Linked DNA regions of Homo sapiens. The protein of the gene in region 2 interacts with the protein of the main gene of each other region in a pairwise test. Each region holds a gene or a part of one and is shown on either strand. Other genes may lie near its edges. The genes, in order: CLNK and TXK.

Region 1 (3,826 bases), about 38 Mb from region 2:
CCGGGCTGGTAAAATTTTAATCGACTGCCATGTCTCTTCCATCCGAAGCTCAGGGTCATCATAGTCATCATCACTGTGGCCTTTTGCTCCATCCAGGACTGCAGCAAAGTTTCTTTCCTAAGCAGGTGGTAACATTCCAGTGAGTCAAAGGAAGGTACAATGTTGACAAAGACAGGCTACAGTGCTGGCTAGAGAAATGGGGTAGACCTTCTTAGCTGCAAGTTAAATATTTAAGAATCTAGGGTCTGGGATCTTAAATAGAAGTTTAATTCTTGTGCTAGTGAGAATTCTAAAGATATCTCCCAATATTCTCATCTCTGGTTACTGAATCAATACTAATCTAGGTACTGCTGTGAAGGGACAGTGCAGATGTAATGAAGGTCACTAATCAGCTGACCTTAAAATAGGCAGATTGTCCTGGATTACCTGGGTGGGCCCAATGTAATCACATGAACCCTTAGAAGCAGAAAGAGGACTTACTTGCAAATAAGATAATCTTGTATTTGAAGAATTCACTAAAAAATTATTAGAACTAATAAATAATTCCTCAAGGTGGCAGGATACAGGATTAATATACCAAATTCAGTTGTATTTCTATATGCTAGTAATGACAATTTATATTTCTATAAATTAGTAATAACAAATTGAAAATAGAAATTAAGAAAATGGGCTAGGTGCGGTGGCTCATGCTTGTAATCCCAGCGCTTTGGGAGGCTGAGGTAGGAGGATTGCTGGAGGCTAGGAGTTTGAGAACAGCCTGGGCAACAGAGTGAGACCTCATCTGTACAAAAATGTTTTAAAAAAGAAAACGATTATATTAGCAATAGCATCAAGGAGAATAAAATATATGGAAATACATTTAACAAAAGAAGTGCAAAATTTGTACACTGAAAACTGCAAAAACACTGTTGATAGTAATTTCAGAAGACCTAAATAAATGGAAAGATGACTAATGATCATGGATTGGGAGACTTAATCTTGTTAAAATAGAAATACTTTGCAAATTAACACACTGATTTATTTTGCAGAAATTGACAAGATAATCCTAAAATTCTTAAGAAAATAAGAAGAACCAAGAATAGCCAAAACAATCTTGGGAAAAAAAAAAAAAAAAAAAAGATAAAGTTGGAGGACTAACACTTATTTCAAAAGTTACTACATAGATGCAGTAATCAAGACAATGTGGTATTGGTAGTAAGATAGATGTGCGGATAATTGGAATATAATTGAGGGTCCAGAAATAAACCTTCACACTGAGGGTTAATTGATTTTTAAGAAGTGTACTAAGACAATACAATGGGTGGAAAGAATAGTCTTTCAACAGATAGTCCTAGGACAACTGGATATCCACATGCATGGCAGTGAGGCTGAACCTCTTTTTTATATCATATGCAAAAATTAAGTGCAAATGGGCCTTGAATATAAATTTAACAGCTAAAACTATAAAACCCTTAAAATATTGGAGTAAATCTTCATTTCTTGGCTTAGGCAATGATTACTTAGATAGAACAAAAAAATACAAGCAATAAAAGAAATAGATAAATTGGACTTAATTAAAATGAAAATCTTGTGTGCTTCAAAAGACCACAAAAAATAAAAAGGCAACTGTGGAATGAAGAAAATATTTGCAAATCATGTATCTGATAAGGAGCTTAAATCCAGAGTATATGAAAAACTCTTACAATGCAATGATCTAAGGATAAATAACCAAATTTTAAAGTGGGAAAAGGATATGAATGGATGTTTCTTCAAAGAAGATATGCAAACCATCAATAATCCCATGGAGAGATGCTCAATATCATTAGCCATTAGGAAAATGCAACTCAAAAGCACAATGAGATGTCAGCCATACAACACCAAGATGATTTAAAAAAAGACAGAAAATAATCAGGGCTGACAAGAATGTGGAGAATTTGAGGATCTCATGCATTGCTGATGGGAATGTAACAGGGTACAGCTGCTGCAGAAAATGCTTTGGCAGTTCCTCAAAAGGTTAAACACAGAGCTACCATATAATCCAGCAACTCCACATTCACACAAAAACTAGCACATGTTTATAGCAGTATTTTTCTTAATAGTAAAAAAGTGGAAATAACCCAAGTATCCATGAACTACTGCATAGGTAATAAAGTGTTGTATAGTCACACAATGGAATATTATTCAGCAATGAAAACGAGTAAAGTACTGATATATGCTATAACATGGATAAGCCTTGATAATATTACGTTAAATGAAAGAAGGGAGTCATATACAAAATGGAATGTTGCATGATTCTGTTTATATGAAATGTCTGGAAGAGGAGGATCTATAGATAAAGAGTAGATTAATATTTGCCAAGGTCTGGGGGAAGGGGGGACTGGGTTTCATTTTGAGATGATAAAAATATATTGATTGGAGTGATGGTTATGCAACTCTGTGAATATACAAAAAAACCATTAAATTGTACTCATAAAATGCGTAAATTGAATGGCAGGTAGATTTTATCTCAGAAAAACCTGTTTTAAAAAGCAGAAGAGGAAGTCAGAGAAAGGAAGTAGACAAGAAAGAAAGAGAGATCTGGCAGAAGGACAATTTAGATAGAGGAGTCCAAGAGTAGAAGGATTTGACAACAGCCAGCCAGCAGGGACATGGGGACCACAGTCCTACAACAGAAAGGAACTGGATTCTATGAAACAACCCGAAAGAATCTGGAAGCAAGTTCCTCTTCAGAGCCCCTGGAGGAGAATGCAGCCCTGCCAGCATGTTGCTTTCAGTCTTGTGAGACCCAGAACAGGGGAACTAGTTGAGCCATGCTGTGCCCAGACTTCTGATTGCATCCACTGTGCGATAATAAATGGTCAAGCTGCCAAATCTGTGGGGATGTGACATCACAGCAATGGAAAACAAATGCAATTATTTGGGTCTTTACTGTGAAGGGTGGGGCCTCAAGAAGTGACACCACTCTCTGTATATTGTCTTAAAATGTGACACTATCACAGTAAAAGCAACTGCAATGTGAAATTTTGTGCTAAAGCTGACACCATCATTTTTGAAATTCTAGTTCATTCGATCAGGTTTAGGTGTGAGAATTTAGGTAAAATGTATAGTCAAGAAAATTCTGTGGGTTCATATTCCCCCAGCCACCTCCTCCCCAAGTGAATTGGCCAAGACTGCCCTTTTTTTTTTTTTTTTTTGGTCATTTTTCCATTCCTGAAATGGAGCCAGGAGACCAGGTTACAGACCATTGGTACTGCACAACATTTGAGGGTGGGGTTCTTATCTGATAGGATTAGTGTTCTTATAAGAAGAGACACCAGAGAGTTCTCTCTCTCTCTTTCTCTGGGTTTCTCCCTCTCTCTCCCCACCCGTCCCCAAATGCACACACTGAGGAAAGGCCATGTGAGCACACAGGGAGAGGGTAGTCATTTGCATCCCAAGGGGATAGTTCTCGCCAACCCTACTGGCACTTTGGTCTTGGACTTCTGGTCTTCAGAGTCATGAGAAAATAAACCTCTGTTGTTTGAGCCATCCAGTTTATGGCATATTGTTATGGCAACACTAGAAGACTAACACAGGCACCTATCAAAGGCTCTGGGTCTGAACACTAGACTGGCAGGAATGGACACCAGTCTGCAACAGATGCACTCACACACAATGGTCATTATAGGAATTCTGGAATGTGCTCCTCCGCATTAAAATCTGCAGCCGGCATCATGTTATGTGTAAGCACAGACATGACTCTTGATCTTGCATTCTTGGAAAGGTTACTTAAGCTCCCTGACTGAGATGTTCAATCTGTAAATTGGAGATGACTAAACCCACCTTATCTTGTTGTTGTTCATTGAGA
Region 2 (3,826 bases):
GCCTGAAGCCTTCAGAAATAGCTTCCACGACTTGCAAATTTGACTTATTTTCAAAAGGCATTTTTCCTTCTGTAAAAACTTCCCACATTAAAACTCCTGCAAACAAAAATGCAGGAAAACAAGGGGTTAGAGAGAAATGATTGCTTGGGAACTGAAAGAACAATTTCAAACTACAAGGCATTATTTTTGTGCTCCAGGCTTTGGGCTATAACCATCCTGAATAACAGCGGTTCTGTCAAGGAAGCAAATCATGTTCACTTTAGTTTTCAAAGAGGCCTGTAACCTGAAAATAATCTAAGTGAAAACAATGCCTTTCCTTGTCCATGGGTCTTGATTGCCTCTCCTATCAGGAGAAAATGCCAGTAGCATTTTCTTTTCTTTTTTTTTTTTTTTGAGACAGGGTCTCGCTCTGTCGCCCGGGCTGGAGTGCAGTGGCATGATCTCAGCTCACTGCAACCTCTGTCTACCGGGCTGGAGTGCAGTGGCATGATCTCAGCTCACTGCAACCTCTGTCTCCCGGGTTCAAGCAATTCTTCTGCTTCAGCCTCCTGAGTTGCTGGGATTATAGGTGCCCACCACCACGCCCAACTAATTTTTCTATTTTTAGTAGAGGCGGGGTTTCACCATGTTGGCCAGGCTGGTCTCGAGCTCTGACCTCAGGTGATTCGACCACCTCAGCCTCCCAAAGTGCTGGAATTACAAACGTAAGCCATCACGCCCGGCCTAGCATTTTCATTTCTAAGCAGCAGTCACGTTCCTGCATCCTGAAATCAATGAACCTTTCTGCCATTCCATAGAAACTGACAGGATTATGTGAGCCTCTGCTGCCTACTTAGCCAAGAGTTTCAGCCAGTAAATGGCATGTGTCCCCTTCTTTCTGCTAAAAGATTAGACTGATGGGCAGAGCCCCAGAATATCTAGCAGGGGCTCTGTACATAAGTAGATGTCCAATAATCATTGATTGATTGATTAGTGAAACTCCTGCAAGAACTCCTAATTTGAGTTCATTTAATTATTCACTTATTCTACAAATATTTACTAGACATTGATGAGAGGCGAGGCCTCTGCTGGGGCCTGGAGATTTTATAAGTGTGAGATCAATCCATGTGCCTAAGGAGCTCACTGTTCAGTGAGGGAGACAAGTAGGTAAAATTCAGGGAGTTCTAATTGTTTGGCAACCTTCGATGAGGTCGTTATATTGCTCTTCATTGGTCTCTAAGATGTGGTCTCACAACCTAATTGCTCTTCAGTAGAGCTTCAAGTGTCACCTGCTGAGACTATCATATGTCCATGGAGAGCTAATGAGATTAATGACACAAGCTTAACTTTATTGTATGTTTTTAAATTTATGTTTTAATTTTTTTGAGGCAGGGTCTTGCTCTGTCATCCAGGCTGGAGTACAGTGGCACGATCCTAGCTTACTATAACCTCAAACTCCTGGGCTCAAGCAATCCTCCTGCCTCAGCCTCCCGAGGAACTGGGACTACAGGTATATGCCACCACACCTGGCTAATTTTTTTTTTTTTTTTGTAAAGACAGAGTCTTGCTAGGTTGCCCAGGCTAGTCTTGAACTCCTGGTCTCAAACAATCCTCCCACTTCAGCCTCCCAAAGTGCTGGAATTGTAGGCCTGAGCCACTGTGCCCAGTTTTAACCTTATTGTAGACAATAAAACTGACACCCTTCTGAGGACCCAGAACCCACAAGCCTCCAGGAAGTTTGGGGTGAAAGAGGATAGATAGATTTTTGCATATTTATTACCATTTTTTGAAAATCAACCCCGAAACTTCATTGGACGTGGGTCTATGGTGTCTCTTTCTCAATGAAGAACATTATCCAATATGAATATCAATTTATAGATCCCAAGGAAGCCTATGTCTAAATTCCACAAACTTTAAAGTTAAGGAAGTAAATGAGATGCCACCATTTTTTAAACTCAGGTTTTAAGTTCAGGTTAACAACTGAACAACTGGAAAATAGTCAACCTGCTTCACAGTTTAGACAATTAAGTTTATTAATTACACTCTAAACAATGTCATAAGATCATTTTTCCTTCAAGCCTCTGCGGAGTGGAAAACTTATCTGAGTTTGTTTTCTAGATCAGTAGACTCTTTGTTATGGTTTTATAGTGAGTGCCCATGGAGGAAGGAAAAGATCCAAAAGGCAGACTTATGTAAGAAGGTATGTGACACCAGTTGCCAAAGACAGTCGGGATGTGGTTAGAACACACAGAAGGAAGCACAATTACAAGAAGACTTTTTAAAAAATGCTATATCAATTAGGAAATCAAAGTTAAAAATAACACATTGCCCATTTTATTAAATCAAGCTCCAGCAAGTGAACATCAGATGCACTCACCAAATGACCAGACATCAGATTTACTGCTGTACTTATTGAAAAGAAAAACTTCAGGAGGGGACCACTTGATTGGGAACTTGGCTCCAAAAGAACTGACATACTCATCATCCAAAACGTACCTAAGTTTATCAGATTCAAAGCATATTGTGTTAATTACCTCCAAGCTCTATTTACTTCAAATCCCTTTAGTTAACTCTAAGTTGCTAAAAGACAAAGTATTTTACCCCAGAAAGGTTGTGGATGCCTTCTTGTTAGTAGAGTGTGAAAGTGTCCCTGATAATGTTTCCTCCCCAAACAAAGTCTCAATTGTATTTGTTTTACGTGGACCTCTGAAAATCATAATGCTGCTTCAGTTCAAAACATGGCTCACTGTTTATGTTAATTATGGTAAATTCTTAACTCTACAAAGAAGCCTGCTAAAGGCTCTAACAACCAAGATTATAAAAAGGAAATAAAAGACCACTCTTCCCAGGGGTGGGGAAAACAAAGACCACTCTTCTTAAAATGGAAATGAATGATTCAAAGTTGGATGTCGAATTTTCTTCCATGTGCATGTTTTTTTGTGGGGCATACAGAAGGGGGGAAAGTAAAAGTATATGAACATAATGCTTCTGATATGACAAATCTCTAATGCACTAGAATGGCCCTATATGGAAAGAAACCAAGAATAACTACCGTCTCCTTAAAAAAATAACAAGTTGAACCCTCTCTCTTTTTTGAGAATTGTACACCGGGATGTCCAAATGTCAGACACTGAGGAGAAGAGACAAAAATAAACTTGTGCTTGTTGCCCCTTAAATATACAATATAGTGTTTTCACAGCATTTATTAATGCTGCCCCTATACTCTCACTTTTTTTTTAAATACACTACCTCCCTCCACCTGTCAGCACTTTATTGAGTCAGAGGTCATTCTACTTAGGTAAAGAATGACTAACAGAAAACAAAGAGAGAAAAGCCACTGTTTATAGATTTTGAATTTTTCAAGTCTAGGCTCTTCAGAGAAGAAAGATTGAGTTATTAACAAAATATCTTGGAAAATGGGCCATGAACAGGAGTGAGATCTCACTACCACCACCCCTATTACCACCACTATCTAGAAAAAGATCCCCTGAGCTTTGGGGGGATCTTTTTCCCCCAAAAAGAGGAATGGGGGAAATAGAAGGGAAAGAAAAGGGGGGTACTAGACATTAGTAGATCAGTGGGTTAGGGTCCTGTATCTTGTACCCTAAAGGGCTGCCCAAGTACTTTAGGAAAGAAGCTCCTACTCCCACATTAGGTTGGTGGGATTTAAAAGTGACACAGAACCAGTGCTCTTTTCCCCAGGTGGAGCCCTTGGAAAGGCAGAAAGATGCCAGTGAACAAATGGCTGTGGATGTGCCTAGGTAAATGAGATCTGAGATCACACCATGGAGTTTTGTAATCATAAAGAACGCCGGCCAGGTGAGACTGCTCACACCTGTAATCACAG

Evidence for each region.
Region 1: the proteins of TXK (region 2) and CLNK interact in a two-hybrid assay, tested with the Homo sapiens proteins (one large-scale study listed by BioGRID and IntAct).

The regions. Positions count from the first base shown.
Region 1 is NC_000004.12:10,566,034-10,569,859, forward strand, and holds part of CLNK (cytokine-dependent hematopoietic cell linker), read right to left. Parts: intron 118-3,826; coding exon 1-117. UniProt on the Homo sapiens protein: An adapter protein which plays a role in the regulation of immunoreceptor signaling, including PLC-gamma-mediated B-cell antigen receptor (BCR) signaling and FC-epsilon R1-mediated mast cell degranulation.
Region 2 is NC_000004.12:48,071,579-48,075,404, forward strand, and holds part of TXK (tyrosine-protein kinase TXK), read right to left. Parts: intron 2,476-3,826; coding exon 2,357-2,475; intron 97-2,356; coding exon 1-96. UniProt on the Homo sapiens protein: Non-receptor tyrosine kinase that plays a redundant role with ITK in regulation of the adaptive immune response. Regulates the development, function and differentiation of conventional T-cells and nonconventional NKT-cells.